Linked DNA regions of Homo sapiens. The protein of the gene in region 1 interacts with the protein of each later gene in a pairwise test. Each region holds a gene or a part of one and is shown in the gene's direction. Other genes may lie near its edges.

Region 1 (8,847 bases):
ACGAACAAACTCTCCCAGAGGGTGGTAGGCGTGCGTTTGGAACCAGATATTCCCCATTCGTTCTGTCTTTCATCTCTGTTGATATCTGTTTTACTGTTGGTTCAGAGTGGAGTCATCCATTTGGTTACTAGTATCTCTTGATTACATTTTACAGCTTCTTCCTCTAGAGAGAGGCTGTCAGCTCCAATCTGGGAAATCCCAGGGAATGTCTGCATTGTCTTAGCGTGGCTCAGGCACCCACTCCTGTGGCACCCTCTGCCCTACCCTTGTGAAGAGAGGAAGACAGTTACTAGAAAGAAGGCGTTACTAGGCAGATAGCACATGGTATCTGTGAATTTTACTCCTCTGCCCCCATTTCCTTGCCTTTCTCTTTTCCAGGTTTAGTGGAGTCTTTGAGTTTGCTCTCTCAACCTTTTGGAAGAGGCCAGTCATGGAATTGAGGCCTGCTGGTTCCTTTGTCAACTTCATTTCCCTGACTGTTAGCAAACTTTGCCGCAGTAATGCTGCATAGCAAACTGAATCTCAGCAGCTTATAACCAGCACTTGTTCACATGTTCATGGGGCGGCAGGTCTACCAAAGTTCAGCTGAGCTAGGAAGGCTTCAGCTGGTGGCTTGGCTGCAGGCTGCCCAGGTGTGGGTCCAGGCTGTGGGTTGATGTCAGGCCTGCTGCATGTAGAGTTACTTAAAAGCAAATGGAATAATATAAGTAAAGCGCCTGGCATTGTGCCCACCCACCATCAGGTGGGCACTTGTGTTAACCATTAATTCCTGACTGCCACATTGCATGGTGATCTTCATGCACAGTGGAAGTGTATTTAGACTTAATAACGTTTCTGTGAAAAGCAGTGTTCTGAGAGACTAAGTTCAAAACTTTGGTGCATATAACTTCTGACCTTGCCTCCTCTTTTTAACATTTTAGCCAGCTTACCAAAACCTGAGGCAGAAAGTGGATAATTTTGTGTCAACACATCTGGACAAGCAGGAATGGAATCCTACGATGAACAAAAACCAGTTGCGAAATGGTCTGAGGCAGAGTGTGGTTCAGTAAGTAAGCAGAATTTAAAGCTTTTGAAAAGGCAGTCATCACAAGTGTGATGCACAAGAAGGTTGAGGTCTCTGTTTAGTCAAGGTTGATGGGACTTTATATCAAGTATCACTTAGGAGTTGCAGCAGTCTGCTCTTTTGTTATAATTAAGGTTAAAGGAAGCAAAGTACTCAGTTGAAATTCCAGTTTCTGCAGCCTGTGAAGGCCTCCTGTGTGCATCTCTACTGGGTGCATCAAAAGGCATTCCAAATCGTGAGACATTTTCCCTGCTCTTTGAAGTTTCAGTGTTGTCCAAACATATATGTGAGTTTTATACCAAGATATCAGGGTTTGGATCTTGGGCAAGAGGAGTTGGATCTTTATTCTCACAGGTGAATGTGAACTAAATAAATTCTTTGAGTCCACCAGGACTGCCACCTCTAAAGTGTAATGGTGACAGCTTTCAGGAAGGCATAGTCTTAATAAAGTATCGTACTTCACAGTAACAAACTGAACCTTAGTTAATAAAGGTGCTATTGATAGCTTATCTGAGTGACGCACAAAAGTGGAGGTGGAGGAGGGTACAGAAATGGGAGAACACATTAGTGATTGCCTGGGGTTACGGATGGGAGGAGGGGGTGAGTGTGACTTGCAAGTGGTAGCACAAGGGGGAGCTTGCAATGGTGCAGTTAAGTGTCACTGAATTGTGCTGTGCTCACGTGCAACAGCTCGTATGGTAAAGTCGCACGGAGCTACACACACAAATAAGTGCAAGTGTAACTGAAGTCTAAATAAGGTCTGGATTGGACCAGTGTCATTTTCCTGGTTTTGATATTGCACTAGTTACGCAAGGTGCTGACATTAGAGCTGGCTGGGTGAAGGGTGCGTGTGGAACTCCCTGGACTCTTCTTCACAACTTCCTGTGAATATGCAGCGATTTTAAGATTTCTAAAGTTTTTAAAAGTGTTTTACTAACAAGCTAGTACTTCCAATATGGCTGAATGCTGGGAAGAAGCCTGATAGCAGAAGATGCCCAGTGCCTTGTCATTCTGGAGTCAGTACCGAGTGCCTTTCCCTTTCTCCAGAGAACAGACTGGTGGCACCGGGCTCTTTCAGAAAGAAGGGGACAGTAGCTGCCCCTTACTGAGCAACTCTTTATTACATGTCTGGCACTGGTCTTTACATATATCACTCATCCTCATGAAAAGCCTGTTTCACAGCTAAAGTCACTTGTGTTTACCCTGTCTTGAGTAAATCAAAACACTGAACATTCTGAAATATTTGGAAAGTTGCCATGATTGTATGAAGGCTGTTAACATTGCTTTGATTTCTGTAATGAGCATGGATGTCATTCTAGAGGTATGCATGTGGCGCTTCCTCTTGCATTTCTTTAGTAGGAATTGTAATACGGAAAAGTGCACAGAAGTTCAGTGAAACAGATAATTAGAACATCCCTTGATCACCCAGATCGAGAAATGGACTCACACCCCCGAAACAGCCTAGCTCCGGATGTACTTTCCTCCTTTCGGAAGTTTTCCATATTCCTGACTTTTATACTAATCATTTCCTCTCTGCATAGTTTTTACCACCTCTGTGAAGTTGTTGTTTTTTTTTTTTTCCCTGCTTTTTGATTTGACTTAGAATGTGTTTAACCTGAAAACATGAACTTGGCTTTAATACTGGGACATTTCTCCACAATTCTTGCTAGCATTTTGAATTTGAGGCAAAATCTACTGGAGTTTCGAAACGCAGACTTTCTGCTTGCCCCCAGGTGCTCTCCCCAGGTGGACACTGCAGGCCTTCAGAGCATTGGCTCACTGGCCTGGCTGTTCTGGCCCAGATGCTGTAACCCAGTGCCACAGCCTAGAGGGTTTAACAGGAAATTAGCCTGTGCTATTGCACTGAATTATGACGAATAACTCTTGTAACTGTACAATATTTGTTTTTTCCATCTTGTACATTGGGCTCCTGACAAGATTTTATGTTTTCCTCAAAAGTTTAAGAATCTCCAGGAAAGTGAGCTGCACTCCCTTGGTAGTTTGTTTCCCCTGATCAGGGGTTTTGGTCAGTTGGGGATGCTTTAACAAGGCGCCGTAGACTAGGTGGCTTGTAAACAATGGAAATTTACTTCTCACCATTCTGGAGGCTAGAAGTCCAAGACCAAGATGCCAGCATGGTCAGGTTCAGGGGAAGGCCTTCTTGCAGGCAGCAGACTGCCAACTGCTTGTTCTTCTCATGTGGTGGAAAGAGAGCTCGCTAACTTCCTGGGGTCCCTTTTGTAAGGGCATAAATTGCATTCGCGGAGGCTCTGCCCCCATGACCCGATCGCCTCCCAAAGGCCCTACCTCCAAAGGCCATCACATTAAGGATTAGATTTCAACATAGGAAGTCTGGGGGACACAGGCATTTAGTTGATAATATCAAGCTTTTACATCTGGTAAAGGACCCTGTGAATCCGACTCAGGAAGTGGTTTGGTAAAGTTGGAAAGGTATTGGCTTGTGACTGAGGAGAGGTGGCTTTCCTTTGTTAGCATCCCATAGCCGGATGCTAACTTTGCTGTATTTAACGATGCTCATCACTAAGGGCCGATACTGTCTAATGCCTGGTCTACCTGAAAATGTGCCCTTCAGTGCTCTAGTGGTGGTGTATTTACATCTAGGCTTCCTGTCGATAAGCTGTTAGTTACCATTGAATCCAGGGAGCACTTTACACACTAATCATCTTTCCCAGTTCACAGCCTGTTTCTTATCTTCTTTGTCATGATGTACATTTACTCATGTCTTTCCTTTGCTGTACCCTGACAGACCATTTGCCCACTTGCTGCCCAGCCTATTTTTACCCGAAGGCTTAAATGGCCTCTGAAGTCTCAAGTCTACGGGAAAATAAGTAAAACCTGCCCACATGCTTGTGATGGTATTGGAATATTTCAGTCCTTTGAGAAGAACACTTCACTTTGAACCTTACGGGCTATTTTCCAGACTGTCCAAATATGATTTGTTTCCTCTCACCATCATTTCCAGTACCCTGTCCCAAGTGTTTGAATATAGACATTGATATGCCCTGATTTTTGCTCTACTTCAGAAAGGATCGGGGATGTAATTTAGCCCTCTAGGAGCTTGGAACTAATTTGTTTGTCTATTTCTTGTTTGCTTCCAAGTTGCTTATTATGTGTTACAGGTAGCAACTACAGCTGAAGGCCATGGTGAATTGCTGGTGATGTAAATACTCCCAGCCCTGACTGATCGGCCTTGTTTAAATTTTAAGGATTAGTAAACAGGTTGCTGCTGGAGCTACTTCTGCTTAGGCTATTAGGAGAATAAATGTTGAAGGAAATGGAGTCCAATTCGGGGCTTACTGGCTTTGACAGTACGAGGAAGCTTTTCAGTGCCACACGTGTCAAACTCTTTCTCACCATGCTGTCATTTGTTTGTTGTTTTGGAGCAACTCACTTAGTTTTGTTTTTGATTCTTTTGTACAAGGTTGGGTGATTGTGGGTGAGATTGTGCAGTAGGAATAACAGCTGCTGGTTGAGAATTACCCCTCAAAAGTGAAAATAGCGTGAGCTGTATATGGTAAGTGGATTGACCTCTAAACTCCCTAGAAGGGCTGTAGCTTTGAAGGTGGACATTTATTGGGCTCGCACGTGACACTTATTGGGGCTAAAGATGAATCCCGAAGGAACTAAATAACAGAATGATCTGTTTGTCTCCACAAGGTCAGGGATGTTGGAAGCTGGAGTAGACAGGATTATTTCTCAGGTGGTGGATCCAAAACTTAACCACATCTTCAGGCCACAAATAGAACGAGCAATTCATGAGTTCCTGGCGGCCCAGAAAAAAGCAGCTGTGCCAGCACCCCCTCCAGAGCCCGAAGGCCAGGACCCTCCAGCTCCATCTCAGGACACTTCCTAAGGTCCAGTATCCTATCTTCTGTCCAGGAGTATGCATCTCTGGCTTGTAGATATGTAAAATGGATAGGAATGGGGTAGGCCGTAATTGAGGATCATTCAGGAAGTATTTACTGCAGATGGACTTCACCTACTGTTATAAGTCACTTTTTACTGAGAACTAATTAGTAGCAGTTTCCTGTGTCAGTGACTGATTTTCTGTTCCACCAGCGCTAAACATGTAAGCTATGGATAGATGCTTCATTAGAAATCAGCTGGGATGATTGGTGTGCATAAAGGGGATTCAAATGAAAGTCTTATTTTGCTGAAATGTTTAAATGAGTCTCTCCTGGACATGAGTTAACTTAGGCTTGCAATTTTATTTAAAATCAAGCAGTGCCTTCTGAAGTGATATCCTAAATGGGATTCAGAGTCTGCTTTGAGTGCGACTCGATTTCCATGAATTTAGAAGGAGTTTGTTTACCACTATCAATTACCATGGGATTCTTCTGTTAGGAACACTCCCCCTTTTTAAATTAAATTTGGAATTAAATGTAATTTTAAACAGCTGTAGATGTACAAAAGAATGCTTTTTGCAGGTTTTGGGAGACATTAGTAGGAGCAGCGATGAAGTTAGCAGTGGACTTTTCGCCGTTGTTGGTGACTGCTGGGATATGTTTTATCCCTTCATTCTGATTTGGTGTTCTTTTTAAGATTCTCTGAGATGCCTGTTATAATCAGTAAGTGAGGTGAATTGACTAGGGCGTTTTGAGTGTCAGTGATGAGCAACGCAAGAGCATCAGGACTGTCTTTTTGTTCCTCTATTGAGAGAAGCCCTTGAGTCCAATATGGAGTGTAAAACATTCATTTTAAGTCTTTCTTTTTAATTGTAAATTCCTTTAGGAACATAAAAGTGAATATAGTCTGTTATCAATAAATAACATTTTGATATGATTATCTTTCCTTTTTAGAATACGCCAGACACCTTTTGAAAGCTAATTTTTGGTGAAGAAATGGATTCGGTTACATAAGAGTGCAACTTCAGACTGAAGATAGGCCAAGGTCGTCACTGATCTCAAGATTTCAACCTTGACCATGGGCAGTGACCAGATTGAAAGGGGAGCAAGTTCGGCAGTGGGAGAGTTGACCGTGTCACCCCCTGCATTGTGCTGCCATTTGGCCAGCCTGTCCAAGGGCATGACACCAAGTAGACACTACAGAGAGAGAAACACTACAGCAACCCAGGGTTGTCCTGAAACAGACTTTTATACTTGAACATGGAGACTGCACATGGACTTTAGGGTTTGTGCTGTGGGATAAACGGAAGCTACAGTGAGAACATAGCCAGTCCCAAAGACAATTTCAAAGAAAAATGACAGTAAAGATTAGCTGGGAGTAGTCTTTGACAGTGCTTATTTGATACTGTCTCTCAGAGTTTGCAAACCAGATTGTACAAGTCATTAGCGTCAGATAGCTTTAAAGTTGTGACCTTCTTGTACATGAATCTTCTAGCCAGTTTCCTTTCCTTTGTAACGAAACATGAAATCCTAGAATGTATGAGAAGTTCAGACATTAGGCATAAGGAAACTCGTTTGCAGGCTCTCTGTCCAGGGCTGCTTCCTGTCCTGGAGGGGCCAGTGAGTCTTAGGTATGTTTATTTTATTCTCACATTTGTGTTTTTTTAGAAAAGTGAATGGTCAATAAATGGCTTATCTTTCATAATAAAATTATTTGATACTTTTACTCCGAAGCTTCAGCTGAAGCTTAAACCTCAGGTCTGTGAAGGGCAACCTTTGTCTTCTGCCTCTGTGCACCACACATGATCTACTGGCAGTGAAGATTGGTACATATAACTTGGAACTATGAAACTAGTAGGTGTAGCTAGTAGTGGGCTGTTTCTCTCCTCCCTGAGCCATTACTGACACTGGTCTTTAGTTGAGGTAGTCCGTGGTATGTGTCAGTGTTTGTCATCCTTGTGTGTGCAGAAGTAGCACCTGGGGATTTAAGGGAAAATGCATATTTCTGATTAAGAAGTTCTGGGGTGGGACCTAAGAGTGAGTGTTTCTGACAAGCTGCCAGGTGATGCTGATGCTGCCAGGCCTCTGAACATACTCTGTATAATAAGCCTTGGATAATATATCCAAGATTATGTCTAACTAAGTCTGTGGTTCTTGGTTGAGTCTACTACTGCATATTGCTGCTAATCTGATCAAAATTTTAACCAATTCAGTTGGTTCCCTGTTAAGACAAAGGCTCCACTTCCACCTTTACCATGAATACCCCTGTATGAGCACTGCAGTGCCATATTCAGCAAGATGCTTGGTAGCATGTGCCCTAATTTTAAAGCAAACTGGCCACACGTTTAAGGCAGGTGCCAGTTATATCTGACGTGTGGTCTGTTCCCACCTGGTAGGTGCAGTTCCATTTCAAGCTGCCTTACAGTTGCAGGAGTCAACAAAGTTCTTAACCCCAGAAAATGGACCCTCCACTCCTCTCTACTACTAGGCAGACAGGGAGTGGCCAGAATTAACCAGTCCTGTGCTTGCAGAAAAGCTGCTCAGACTAACTGGAGTGTCTCCTCTTCAGGACCACATAGCTTTAATGGGAAGTTCCTTCCCTGTGAGGCATCCTTCTGGGAGGGAGATCTCCACACAACTACTTTGTGTTGACCCTCCCAACATCTTGCCTATCCCGCACTGACCTCAACTAGCAACAAAGGGCAAAAGCCCAGAGAAGGCTTCACCCTTTCTGCCCCCAAATGCTCAATTAACTGCATTTTATATATGTTTTTGGCAGACAGTTTTTGGTTCATCTCAGTTCTCTTACTTTGCTGCTGCTTTTACTAGAGATGGCTGGACCAGTTGATGAGAAACACCCGAATTTTCACAGAATGTTAAATGTGCCACATACCAAAGAGTTTCTATTTTTTTTTAAATCATTCTGTTATATCCACCAAGATTCACCTAGATTCGAGATTATTTCATTTGAGAACGTGAGATTATAGAAGTAATTGGGCACATCGTTACTGTTGGGATGGACGGTGGACTTTTTGGCTCTTAGCAACACTGAAAGGGAAGACGTGCCTAGATTGGTTTGGGTAACCATATTCAGACTGGCACAGGAAGGCGAGTCAAGACAATAGCACTAGAAGGCTTAGGGGAAAGAAAGCCAGCCTCTTCCTCCTCAGGAACTGGTCACCAGGTAAGCCTCTTTGCATCCTCAACTGAGTTCTCATGTTTTAATTGGGTTCGTGATATAGAATCTAGAAAAATTGTGTATGTTCTGAGATCCTGAGGAAGACAAGACCACCACAAAATTCCACCTCTTAAACACACCCTTGCTTAATTCAGTCCTAAACAAATTAGCTGTCACTGACCTCAAGCCAGTTAGGCCTCTCTCTAGTTGGGAAAACTGCTGTTTGCAAAAGCCCAGTAAAACACAGTTAATACATGAACAAATATTACCAACACTTGCAAGCCGATTGCGGTCATGAGTGTCTTAAGAGCGCCATCGTGTACGGTGGGGGTCAGCCAAGGTGGGAAGAAGGGTATCATTTTGAAGCCCAGTTCTTTTGTCTCGGACGGCATCTGTGATTGCTGCTGGAGATTCTTGTTTCTGGCATGTTTCCAGTTACCAGCTTAGATATTTGATTGGTATTGCCAACTCGTCTCAACCCAGTCCTGATTGTTTTAACTTTTGGCCTTTAGTGAGGTTTGTGACTCCTATAGCAAAATTGAAGGAATGGTTTTATCCTGTTTCCATCATTTTGCTTTAGCCTCTATTTACTCATCAGGTGGGTGGAGGGTAAAGGTTTCTGTGCATTCTGTGTCACTCACTAGCACCGTGAACTGAATAAGTGCTAACAGATCCATTGCAACAGTGGTTCTGAACGTATAATCCCCAACCAGCAGTATCAGCATCACCCTGGGACTTGT
Region 2 (4,886 bases), on another chromosome or scaffold:
GCGTGGTGGCACATGCCTGTAACCCTGGCTACTGGGGAGGCTGAGGCATGAGAATCACTTGAACCCAGGAGCTGAAGGTTGCAGTGAGCTGAGATCACACCACTGCACTCCAGCCCGGGCAACAGAGTGGGACCCTGTCTCAAAAGACAAAAAAAAAAAAAAAAAAAAAAAAAAGAGATAAGTAACTTACTCAGGCTCACACAGCCAGTGTGGGAACTAAACCCAGGTCTGATTGATCAACCCCAAAGCCCTTGCCCTTTCCGCCACCTGAAGCTGCCCTCAAAATCCCTTGTAAGGTGCACCCACCACTGCTTATCCTATCTCCTCTTCACTCTGCCCTCAGGAAAATACCATCCACTGGCAAGTTGGTGCTGACACTCACAACCGACGCCTGTGAGGGGAAGGAAAATTTTGTCCGCTACCTGGAGCATGTCCAGGCTGTCATCACGGTCAACGCAACCAGAAGAGGAGACCTGAACATCAACATGACTTCCCCTATGGGCACCAAGTCCATTTTGCTGAGCCGGCGTCCAAGGGATGACGACTCCAAGGTGGGCTTTGACAAGTGGCCTTTCATGACCACTCACACGTGGGGGGAAGACGCCCGAGGCACCTGGACCCTGGAGCTGGGATTTGTCGGCAGCGCCCCGCAGAAGGGGGTGCTGAAGGAGTGGACCCTGATGCTGCATGGCACTCAGAGTGCCCCGTACATCGACCAGGTGGTGCGGGATTACCAGTCCAAGTTGGCCATGTCCAAGAAAGAGGAGCTGGAGGAAGAGCTGGACGAAGCCGTGGAGAGAAGCCTGAAAAGCATCCTTAACAAGAACTAGCGCTGCACATCCGCCTTTCCCACCGCCCTCCCTCCCCAGCTCCGCCTCTGTCCTCGCTCCACGTTTCAGGCAGGCACCTAGCAATTCCATCACCCGTACAGGCAATTCCGTCTTCTTAATCTGAAGCTTCACTCACTGTCAATGATTATTTTCATTACAATGGAAACAATCTTTTTTACTCTATGCCCCAAATATAGCGTTCCCAACAACATCCATGTCCTATGTGTGACTCTAAATTCTTTATTTCTGTCATTCAAATGGGTGATATCCTGAAAAAAAAAAAAAAAAAAAAACTGGGACAGCTTTCCCCTCATTTTTTTTTTTGTTTCTGAGAAAAGAACGTATTTTAAAAGCCACATAGAGTGACTCCAAGAACAATTGTCCATGGTCTCAAACAAGGGGCTGTTACATAACAAGAAAATCAAAGCTGAGGACAGGGTGTGAGCGCCACATCTCTGAAAGCACAGGAGACACTGTGCTATAAATCCTTTGGGGAGCGATGTTTTGAATTTAGTGAGATTTACCAGGGATGTAGATTAAGGTGATGTGATTCAAAAGATGCCATTCATAGAGAGCCCTAGTTACTGCATGGGGAAAGAGATCCAGGAAGCATGAGTGCTGGATATTTTACTACCAATGCCAAGATAATTCACTCTACTCAGCCGGCGTGGCAAATATAAAACTTACAGAGCGTGGCTGTGCTCTCACCAGCTGCTGCTCTGAGTTATGTTAAAATCCGCTAGAGCAGCCCAAATTTTTCTCAGTTTGTATAGAGTTCATCCCAGCCCCAATTTTCTGGGGCTCCTCACATAGCTACCCAAAAGAGAAAAAAAATTAAGACAAGCCTGGCAACACACCTGGTGAAGAGTAGTTTACTAGCTTTTCAAACAAGAATGTCCCTTTTCCTAAGTCACTTTGAGGTGTCTCAATCTGATCTGAGTGAGAGGCGACAGGAGTATTTTTTTTTTTTTACAGCTTTACACACACAGATGTGGGCTTTGATTTCCAAGTAATATAATGGAAGAGAAATCTCATACTCCCCCACAGTTTGATGTCATTAATGTGTTGGGAAAAAGGCCTCTGTCCCGGAAGAGTCATGGGAGGTGAAAGGGGCACGTTTGAAGATGCGAGCGCTATCTTCACATAGTTCTCCAGTTGTATGGAGCCTCTTCTGCCAAGAGAGGGCCATGCAATTCATCCCAGAGGAACCTGAGGCCTGAAGGAGGTGAGAGAAGACCTCTGTGAGGAAAGCACACAGTCACCTTCTCGGCAACTAAGCAGTCCCTGAGACCATTTAACATGCAACCCGAAGGTTATGGTCAATCCCAAAAGTCACCACTCCATTCCCAACTAGACATTACCAAAGTGACCTACCCAGAGATTGCTTCTCATCCCCAGTCCCAATGCACATCCATTCCCAAGAAATGCTTTGTCTTCAGCCTCTCCAGGCACCATCTCCCTTCCTGTGGGAGCAGAGAGCTTAGCCTGGAGCACCTTTCCTTCAAGCCAGCAACACAGAGCACTAGGTTCAATTCCCTGAAGGTGGCCACTTTAAGAGAGAAATCTGAAAACCCCATTTGCTTTCTTTTCTCCCATATTGGCATGGATTTCTGTCTTCTCTAACACCTTGTGACCTTCTCTATATCATGCTTTAAAGTGTAATAATATGATTTTTTAAAAGAAATTTATTACTTGTTGCAAAGGTCTTTTTAAACCAGTTTAGATTTCAAGAAAAAATAAATGGAAATCATCGAAAATTCATTTCACATTAATGGTCTAAAAATAAACCAAAGGACATTATGTGTGCATGTGTGTATAAGTGCACACAGAAATATATATACATATGTAGACTATATACATGTGTGTATATATGTGTATATATACATACACTTGTATAAATGTATATACACATATACCTATAATGTGTGTATGTGTATTTATTGAAGAAACAGATACCATACTCATTTCTAAAAGAATATTCAGAGAATATCAAGATGATTCTGGCTGAAAAAGGCCAGTGGAAATTCAGGTGAAAATGTTCATCAATTCCCATTGCATCACCTCTGTAATTTTTCAGCTCTCTGTATAAACATTAAATGTCTTATATAGCAGCAAAAATATAAAATAGTTGTCCATATTTTCACAGGTGTGGTGTAATTTATAAAATTAGAAAGCAACTTATCAGCTACTTAAGAGAAATGGCAAGTTTTGATATGAGTATACAATATATAAAAATATATATAGTGCTATATATATAAATATTTGGTCTCTATTTCATTTTTTGCATCAGTATTAATACTAAAATATGTCTCGCTAGTGATGTTTTTATGATATCCCTGATCCTAACTGAAGAGACAGTTATTTATAGTCATTTATTTTAAAAAATGAAAATAAGTGAATAATAATTAGGTTAACATTGTTGCTCCCTGTGACAAAATTTTATAAGCAAATTTCAAAAGACATGTTGTAAATTAGGAGGCTCAACAATAAAACATTATGCTCCAGAAATTATGTGAGATGTGCTATATTGTACATGAAAATACTTTCATCCATTCTAGGAACAGATAATTTAAAAATTGCCAAAGAGAGATCTAAAGAGCCTGCTTTACTAAGTATGCATAAAAGACTTATAATTAACATATAAATCATACACAAATTATTATCTACAGCAGTATTTTTCAAACTCTAGTTACATCCATTAGTGGGTTGTAAAATCAATTTAGGAGGTCAGTTTTTAATAAAATAGAGTAATTTAGAATACAGTAGGAGAGAAGAAAATCACAGGATAGGATAGGATAGAATAGAATAGAATAGAATAGAATAGAATAGAATAATCATGCATAATAAGGATAAGTATTGTTTCCTGAAATATTTGTTTCAGATGTGTGTGTGCACACGTGTGTGTGTCTGAGTGTGTGTACTGGATCACAATGTAAAATACATTTTTCATTGTGAGTGATGGTCAAAAATCTTTTAGAAACACTATTCTAAAATATATTAATCAGGCTAGACTAAGTTATGCTATAGTAACAGACAATCTCAAAATCTCAGTGGTTTAATACAACAAAGGTTTATTTATCATCCACACAAATTCCAGTGAAGGTTCAGGTGACTCCCCAAAGCCACAGACCTCCATGCAGTGACTCAGGATCCAGGCTGTTTCACCGTATGGTTTGTAATCATAGCACAAGGCTGCTACAATCACCATGCAGAAGAGAACCCAAGGAGGACATTCATCTGCTCTTCTATGTTTAGCCTGAAGGAGACACATGCATCGCTTCTGCCCATTGCCCACTGGCCAGTATTGGGCAATAGCCCTGGCTAAATGCAAAGCAACTGGGAAATCTGTGACAACTAAGGGAATATTTGGTGAGCATTAGAGTCTCCACTACAGAGAGTGCTTGACATTCCCTTAAAACATGTTCTTAAGAACCGATTTAACATGGCAATCACTCTTCATGGATGGTACCATGAACATTATTACAAACTGGCTGTACCTTACCCCATAGACCACAGACTATTCTAGAAAAAGACCTTAATAATTATTCATAAAATATTAATATACTATATTTACCAAAGTTAATTATAAAAACAATTTATAATTCTGTCCTCTGATATAACACTTAAACTCAATTATTAAAATCTTAGCCGGGCATGGTGGCATGTGCCTGTAGTATCAGCTACTCAGGAGGCTGAGGTGGGAGGATAGCTTCAGCTCAGGAGGTAGAAGCTGCAGTGAGCCGTGATCACACCACTGCACTCCAACCTAGGTGAAGAGCAAGACACTGTCCCAAAAATAAATAAATATAAACAGAGTCTGTTACTAAAAATAGATATTGGCGGATATAAGGTCCAAGGTTTGATCTTGTGATCCTGAGACACTCCTTTTTAATACTTAGGTTTAAAGATGGATTTCCAAAAGATTAAGTTTAAAAAATGATTTTTAAAAATTCCGATAGAGTTACTACTCTATGTCTTCATTCGTATCACTTATAAGTTAATGCATGGTTTTCATGTGATCAGCGCATTTGCTTGGAGTGATTATATGAAAACCAC
Region 3 (8,847 bases), on another chromosome or scaffold:
ATCCTTCACCCTCCTCTCCCCACACCAACTAAGGAGATGTTGGCACAAAACTTGATCCATTCCAGAATCAGGTAAAGAAAATAATTATGAACCCTAAAGGGATGGAGCCATGACTGTTAGCACCTTCTCACAATAGCAACTTCCAGGAAAGCTTAGGGACCAGTTTTGAAAATTGAAGGAAATTCTCTTTTTTTTTTTTTTAAGAGACAGGGTTTCACTCTGTCACCCAGGCTGGACTGCAGTGGCGCGATCATGGATCACTGCAGCCTAGAACTCCTGAGCTCAAGCAAGCCTCCTGCCTCAGCCTCCCTAGTAGCTGGGACTGCAGGTGAAAGCCACTATGCCCAGCTAACTTAAACAATTTTTTTTGTTGTTGTTGTTCATACAGCATCTCACTATGTTACCCAGGCTCTTCATAATAGTTTTTGTTGTTGTTGTTGTTTGTTTGTTTTTGTTTTTGTTTTTTGAGACGGAGTCTCACTCTACTGCCCTGCCAGAGTGCAGCGACACGATCTTGCTCCCTGCAACCTCTGCCTCCTGAGTTCAAACGATTTTCATGCCTCAGCCTCCCGAGTAGCTGGGATTACATGCATGTGTCATCATGCCAGGCTAATTTTTGTATTTTTAGTAGAGACGGGGTTTCACCATGTTGGCCAGGCTGGTCTTCAACTCCTGACCTCAAGTGATCCACCCACTTTGGCTTTCCAATGTGCTGGGATTACAGGCATGAGCCGCAGCAGCTGGCCTCATATAGTTTTATATGAAGAGTTTTATTCCAAGCTCCAAGAGGTTGTTGAAAGACAAATTATCAGGAGATCTAGAATTCTGTTAGTGTTACCACTGACTGGAAAAAATCAGTGGTAACTTTTCTTTACTGTTCTCTGATCCTTGCTCCCAGTTCTTAAAGCTGATTTACATGATGAAGCTAGTGGTTGGCCAGGAAATAGCTTATATTTGCAGAATCCTCTTCCTTCTGCATGTCATGGTGATGGTATCAGGAAACATGAGGACTCAGTAACTATAGGGTAACTCAGTACATTTTACTTTGGGGTCTTTGTCTATTTGTTTGCAAAAAAACTGCTGAATTATTTTCTTGAGATTTGGAATTTAATACACTTTAGGGGTTTTATAATAAATTAATGAAACTGAAATCACCTTGATACAAAACAATACTGACATTTTATATCATAAAGCAACTTTTCCACATGTTTGCTATTGTAAGAAATATGTTAACCATCTTGTAAAATGCCTAATTCCTAGGGCAAGAAAAATTCTTAGCCAGAGGTATTTAGAATGTCTATTTCATTACTTGAACATTTTCTCTTTTTTTGAAAACTGGAAAATTTGGGACATATTCCCCATTACTTGAGATAATACTTATTGAGTACTTAGTGTAGGTTAGCAACTGTTCTAAGAGTTTTATGTAAATTATAACTATTTAATTCTCATAAGTTTATATATGTTTAATCCTCCTTATAATCATGAGAGTGGTGTTAATTATCCTCCCTCCAAGTTTGCAAATAAAGAGGTTGATACATATAAAGATTATAACTTGCCTAGATGGATTTGCAGAAAGATTTATTACTAGCAATTTGTTATATTATTTTGCATCTCTTTTATTGTTTACATTTTCACGCTTTAGGACAACGTCGCCCATACTCTGTGTTTGATAAGAAAAGTCAATCTTTGAGTGGTAATTGAATGGGTAAGAAACGTTTCTGAAAGTTTTCACATCCCTAAAAACATTTTGAGAATGCTTATCTGAGGCCATCCCTGAATTTTTAGCCCCAGAGCCACCAATTTGGAATTTTCTGTGTATACTTAAGTTTACCTTAAGAAATGGTCACTTCCTTTGAAGTGGAAAATCTCTTAAGATCTCCTGCTTCTCATCCATAAATCCTTTCTCAGCAGAGACTCATGGATGGGCTAGAAGCTATATTCAGTCATCTTTAGAAGCACATGGGATATTGATCAAAGGGGTGGGGTGGTGGGAAGGTGAGGGGTGGTTGAGTGTACTCCTTGGGTGTCATGGCTGGGATCTCAGTGTCCCTTCTTTTCTGCTTATTTGTACTTATTGAGAAGTCTGTCTTCCATTTTCTCCTTCCCCATGAACAAGTGTGTGAATTATTTGGAGGCAAGTTGTCTTGTTTTTAAATTTTTACTGCCCTAACTTTGACTGTGGTGCTTCACACATGTGAATGCGCTTGGGTTGAAATTTTATTCGTTTTACCATTAGTAATTATTTGAATCAAAGAAAAATCCACATAATTATTCAGTTTAACTGGCCATTTAGTTTTATAGCATTTGAAATAGAAATTGTTTTTAGTTCTAGAGACTAATTTGGCATAATTTAAAAATCTTGGTAGTTTTGGAAACTTGAACCCAATGAATTCATAAATGTTAGTTAAATTTTGAATTATGTATCTCTAACTCTTCTTGGTACCTGAAATATCCTAGTTTCTTCCGTGAGGAAAATCTCAGAATAGCACGCCATGTTATGATGTTTTAAAACGAGTGAGAATTTTGGATGTTATGAGTTCTGGTAGCTGTTTGGTAACTTAGTTTTATATTAGAAAGGTTAAGTAGCATGCCCGAGGTCATACACTGATAAACATGAGGCCAATGATTAGATATGTCTGACTTCACATTCCACATATTTCCTTACACTGTTTTGCAGTGTAAATAGGTGGTTAAGAAGATACCAAAGTAGATCTCTGGTTCATCTTCTGAGAAGCAGAACTAGAATTCTCCTGGCTAGCAGTTATCCATCTAGTGCATATGTATCTAGAGCTGGCCAGGCCTTTAGTTTACAAAATAAATAGAAAGCCTTGTCCCCACTCTGGAGGAGCTTGCTGCCTTGTTAGAAGGTGAGATATGTTCGAATAGAACATTTGGGGAAACCATTTGAGACCTGGTATAATGAAGTGCTAAGATTGTGGGCAAGGTGGGGAGGAGGTAGGCCTTCCTGACTAGTTTAGGCTACAATAGTTGGGAAGACTGCAAGAAGCCAGCAGGCTTCAGTCATGCCCTAAAAGAGCGATTGGTTTAGAAAAAAAACAAAAGGGAACTACTAACATGTATTCTATTCTAGGCAGGTGTCAGGCAAAGTTGTATCTTATTTTGGTCTCACTAGATTCTTGCAAAGCTTATCTGCATATCCAGGTTTTATAAAAGGTTAAGAAACTGAAGCTCCTAGAAGTAAATGAGCCCTTAGTTATCAAATATTGTCTGCATTGTGCAACTTCTTTTTTAGCCCGTAGTCTTTGTTTTCATACTTTAGTTTTAGAGAATTACTCCAAATTCATCATGATTGAAGACAATAAGGAGAACAAAGACCATTCCTTAGAAAGGGGAAGAGCAAGTCTCATTTTTTCCTTAAAGAATGAAGTTGGAGGACTTATAAAAGCCCTGAAAATCTTTCAGGTAAGCATTTTCTGTATTTTTGCACAGAATTCTTCTAGAAATGAATCTCTAAAACTATATTTAAAATATAGGGCAACATAGCAAGACCCTATCTCTTAAAAAAAAACAAATTTAGCTGGGTGTGGTGGTGGACTCCTGTAGTTCCAGCTACCTGGGAGGCTGGGGTGGGAGGATTGCTTCAGTCCGGGAGTCCAGGGTTACAGTGAGTGAGCTATGATCACACCACTGCACTCTAGCCTAGGTATCAGAGTGAGATTTTCTCTCTATATATATATCTATATTTATATATAGATAAAATATATAAATATATAATTTTTATATATTATATATATAAATTATTGTAAACTCTTCAGAGATGGAGTACAAACATTTGTTAAGAACTTACATTTCTAAAATAGTGCTGAATTCTAACAAGGGATACAAACAATTTACAGAAGAGGAGATACAAATAGCTACTTCGAGAAATGGGGGAGAAAAGATTCACTTTATAGATTTTAGAGAAGCAAATTTTAATTTTATTTTAATAAAATATTAAAATTTTATCAATATATAATCATATATTATTAATTATATACTTGAGATTTAATGATATAGTCATAGTATATTTAATGATATTATTTTCATGTAGCAAAGATTCTATAATGACAGTGTCTCCTATTGTCAGAACTTCATTGCATTGGAGGTACATTACCCTCCAATGCACCTTTGGCACAAGGATAAATTTGTGTACCATGTAGGGAAACTATCTGGTAATATGTATTATGAGCCTTAAAATGTTCATATTTTTGACCCATAATTCTAATTTCATAAATCTGTCTTAAAAATATGGATCAGTCAGGCAGAACACGAATATTTATTGAGTCCTTACTATGTGTCAGGTACCACACCAGACACTAAGGATGTGGAGCTGGACAAAGTAAACACAGTGCCTGTCCTCACAGAGTATGTAATCTAGTGGGGAAGGCAACATTAAACAAACAACTGCAGTAAGTGAATAATCACTATGTGTAAAGTGACATGAAACAGAAATACCAGATATTCTGACAGCATTGAACTTGGGGGACCTAACTGAGTTTAAGGGCTCAGGGACACACAAAGATTTATTGTTTATAGGAACTAAAAATTATAAATAAGCCACTTGTCCTAATATAGGGGATGTTGAATTGTGATAGCAGAACACCACTGTGGTTAAGCTCTGGTCTCCAGAGACAGGCCACCTGGATTCATATCCTTGCTCTGTCAGTTATTACCTGGGTGATCGTGGGCAAATTGATTAATCTCTCCACACTTCATGATTTATGTCCATAAAATGAGAACTCTACCTACCTCATAGGGTCATTGTGAGCATTAGTAGAGTTAATATCTCTAAAATGCTTAGGATGGTACAGTACAAAGTAAGTGAACAATAGATGTTAGCTATGTTAATAATCATATGACATACTATTATATAGCTGTTTGCAAAGAATATTTCAAAGAATTAAAAATCTTAAATATAGATAGTCTAGAAGAGCTTGTAATGAAAAGCATCAGTTTTCTTACCTAACACATACCATATTCTCAGTCCCACTCCCTAGAGGCAACCTCTTTTAACTATTTCTGGTCGTTAGTTTTTTTGGTGGTGAGTTTATGAAATCTAAACATTGCTCTTATATGTCTTTTCAAGTTATCAACTTCACACTATATTCATTTACTTTCTATTATGAACAATGATACTGATACCACCTCCCTCCCTTCCCTCTCCCAGTCCTTCCAAATCTGATACTTTTATTATTACTTTTAGCTATTCTATTGATTACCTTTGGGTCTTTAAATAAAATACCTGTATGTCTTCTTCCATCAGCTTTTTTTAAATTTAATTTTTAATCGAAGAATAATTGTGCATAGCTTAAAAACAACTCAACCTGTACTATAAAACATATTTTTAAAAAAGTAGTGTTTTGCTCCATCTCTCTTCATTCCAAAGTTCCATTTAATTTTTTTGCAACCTTGTGTGCAGAAGCTTGAGTTAATCACACTCATTAAATCACGTGTACACTATCATCGTTGATTTGTGCAACCTCTTCCTGTTTTATTTCATTCTTGAATTCTATCTCCATTTCTCTCTTCTGATAGAGAGCTGCTCTCATGTTTGATATGTACATTGAATTACTTTGTCTGCACTTTAGAATATGTAGTCTTTGTGTGTGCGTATATTAGTAATTTATATAATCATATTGTGCTATAAAGATTCTTTTTCCCATCCAGCACTGTGTTTTTAAGACCTATGCACGCTGCTGTGTGAACATCTCATTCATTCTTCTAACTGCTACATGGTGTTCTCTGGGTGTGTCTCCACCTGCCTAGTGGAGACAACCTAGTTATCCCCTGCCTAGTGGAGGCAACCATTTTCAACTCTTTAAACTATTTTTCTAATATTTACTTCCACACTTATAAGTTATATGCTTATTCTGCTTCTACTTCTTGATTTCTAGAATTATAGGTAATTATCTATTGATTTTCAACAATGAAGTAAAAATTTAGGTTTCTTGACACAACTCCCCTTCCGATGGCCTCTTCAACTTCTTTTCCACTCGTCTTCCCAATGTATTTGTGTCCCGGTTTTTGGCTCTGTCAATCTTTAGTGTCTTTATTATTAAGATTATGTAAATATTGTTTGAAGAAGAGCCTTAGTATCCACCTTTGTGACTCTTCCTTTCTTGGGCAACAGGATTACAGCATAGTGTTTAAGCACATGGACTGTGGAGCTGGACAGACTAGATTTGAATTCCGGCTCTGACACTTGTCACCTGTGTGCTTCTGGCCAAACTGCTTAACCTCTCTATGCCTCTGTTTCTGTAACTGAAATGTCTGATAGGGAATGTTTCACTTACTACTTCTACTTTATCTGAATTTTCCAGACCGTATTTTTCTTCCAGATGAACTTGGAAATTATTTAATTACATTTCCTCACCAAATTCCATTGAGATTTTAATTTAGGAATGATTGACATTTTTGCATCTTTTTTTTTCTCCAAAGACATAGTTTAGCTTTATATTTATTCAAGTCATCATTTAGAAAATATTTACAAATGCATTATTAATGTAAAAATTTATAAGAAATAGATGAAATGAAACTCTTCTTTACACCTGATCAATCCCAATATATTTTGTAACTGACTTCTATTGATTCTGTGATAAATTATATGTTCCCAGATAAACCCTGCCTATTCTAATTTTCTAACATCCTCTATCACTCACTCCTCTTTCTTGTTAGCTCATGTTCCCTGATAATATTTTTTTTTTTTTTTTTGAGAAAGGGTCTCACTTTGTCACCCAGGCTGGAGTGCAGTGGCACAATCACAGCTCACTGTAGCCTTAACCTCCTGGTCTCAAGTGACCCTCCCACCTCAGTATCCCGAGTAGCTGGGACTACTGGTGTGCGCCACTACGCCTGGCTAATTTATTATTTTTTGTAGAGACAGGGTCTTGCTATGTGGTCCAGGCTGGTCCTGAACTCCTGGGCTCAAGTGATTCTTCCACCTTGGCCTCCCAGAGTGTTGGAATTACAGGCGTGAGCCACCACGCCTGGCCTATTCTATCTATTCTTTAAGATTCATTTAAGTTCCCACCTGCTCCATGAAACTTTCTACTCTCTCTTAAGTCGTAATGCTTTTCCCTTTGCTGAGCACCTGCATCCGAACACTCTTTACTTTATTTTCTTAATCTTCCATGTGTTCACCAACTAGATTCTAAATTCCTTTATGTCTTCCCTTTATATTCTTCGCAGCCCTTACCTAGTTACACAGGTGTTCATTAAGTTATTTTAGGATGCACTGGTTAGTATTGGAGATTATCTGCTCTAACCTTCTCATTGTTTTAGATGAAAAAACTATAGGGTGATTAGTGCTCATGTTTCATTATCATGTCCCCAGCACTCTTCCTCAGCTACCCAAATTGGTAAGAGAACATACCCTCCTCCCACACTTATACACAGAGCACCCCCATCTTAGGCTGACTTGGGAGAGGTCAGAAGAGGAGATCTGGTTCAGCTGTTACTAAGATTGTAGCTTAAGAGATTTGAGGTATTAAATACTCTGTGCTCAAGCTGTTCATCTAATTTAATTAAATGGATTTTTGAAAGGGAAACTCTTCTTTCTCCAGGACTAACATTGGTATCACTTTTTGAAAACTAGCTTTTATTTATGAGAATTTTCAAAAGATTCCTCTTACCCAGGAAACTTAATAATATTTTGATTTGAATTCTGATTAATTCTGACATCTGAAGGACCTCTAGTGTGTGTTATTTTATTGGTTTCTGGAGGATGGGATGAATTTTGAAAAGTTTTCTAATACATAATTTTTAAGAAGGAATTATTTTGTTGTTGGCAGCACTAAAAACAGTCTTTTTCCCTTTGCTGTTCTGAGAAGTGTGAATCTGATTTTTAGTGGTAATTAAAGTAGCCTGCTCAAAGACTATTAACATTTGAGGCAGTTACATGAAATCTTTTCCCTGTGCTTTACACAGGAGAAGCATGTGAATCTGTTACATATCGAGTCCCGAAAATCAAAAAGAAGAAACTCAGAATTTGAGATTTTTGTTGACTGTGACATCAACAGAGAACAATTGAATGATATTTTTCATCTGCTGAAGTCTCATACCAATGTTCTCTCTGTGAATCTACCAGATAATTTTACTTTGAAGGAAGATGGTAAGTTCAAAATGTGAAAATACTACTTAGAAGATGAAACACCTAATGTGTGTCCAGCCTTATATTTATCTTGAAGACATTAAAATAATAAAACACAAGCTCTCCAAATTGCTTACAGTCTGATAGTGAAGGGAACACAAAATATAGTTGCTCCAGATACCAAAGAAAAATTATAAAGCAACATTTGATCAAGTGTAAGAGAAATGAAAAAGAAAATCTTGAGTATAAGAAACAGCTGGGTGTGGTGGCTCATGCCTGTAATCCCCGCACTTTGGCAAGCCGAGGCAGACTCACTTGAGTCCAGGAGTTCAGGACCATCCTGGGCAACATGGAGAGACCCAGTCTGTGCAAAAAATACAAAAACTAGCCAGGTGTGGTGGCATGCATCTATGGTCCCAGCTACTCTGGAGGCTGAGGTGGGAGGATCACCTGAGCCCAGGAGGTTGAGGCTGTAGAGCTGAGCCGAGATTGTACCACTGCACTCCCGTTTGGGTGACAGAACAAGACCCTGTCAAAAAAAAAAAAAGAAAGGAAAGAGAGAAAGAAAGAAAGAAAAAAGAAAGAAAAAGAAAGAAAAGAAAGAAAGAAAGAAAAAGAAAGACAGACAATTTGGCATAATCAGAAATTGATAATTGATTATCTCTCAATTTCCAAATCATCAACATTTCTTGATTTGACAAACCTATAATTCACAATCCCTGAGCACTTAGTAAGTCTCATAAGACTTGTCATCTAGC

Evidence for each region. Proteins that work in one complex are often made in the same cells at the same time.
Region 2: the proteins of BOD1 (region 1) and PCSK2 interact in binary tests that used the Homo sapiens proteins (3 or more experiments, as listed by UniProt).
Region 3: the proteins of BOD1 (region 1) and TPH1 interact in binary tests that used the Homo sapiens proteins (3 or more experiments, as listed by UniProt).

What each region holds. Positions count from the first base shown.
Region 1 is NC_000005.10:173,605,329-173,614,175, reverse strand, and holds the end of BOD1 (biorientation of chromosomes in cell division protein 1), read left to right. Parts: intron 1-920; coding exon 921-1,045; exon of another isoform or gene 1,046-1,049; intron 1,050-4,505; exon of another isoform or gene 4,506-4,598; intron 4,599-4,741; coding exon 4,742-4,937; 3' UTR 4,938-4,938; intron 4,939-5,883; coding exon of another isoform or gene 5,884-5,911; 3' UTR 5,912-7,031; downstream 7,032-8,847. UniProt on the Homo sapiens protein: Required for proper chromosome biorientation through the detection or correction of syntelic attachments in mitotic spindles.
Region 2 is NC_000020.11:17,481,241-17,486,126, forward strand, and holds the end of PCSK2 (neuroendocrine convertase 2 isoform 1 preproprotein), read left to right. Parts: intron 1-343; coding exon 344-830; 3' UTR 831-3,338; downstream 3,339-4,886. UniProt on the Homo sapiens protein: Serine endopeptidase which is involved in the processing of hormone and other protein precursors at sites comprised of pairs of basic amino acid residues. Responsible for the release of glucagon from proglucagon in pancreatic A cells.
Region 3 is NC_000011.10:18,035,222-18,044,068, reverse strand, and holds part of TPH1 (tryptophan 5-hydroxylase 1), read left to right. Parts: intron 1-3,280; 5' UTR 3,281-3,306; coding exon 3,307-3,423; intron 3,424-7,926; coding exon 7,927-8,110; intron 8,111-8,847. UniProt on the Homo sapiens protein: Oxidizes L-tryptophan to 5-hydroxy-l-tryptophan in the rate-determining step of serotonin biosynthesis.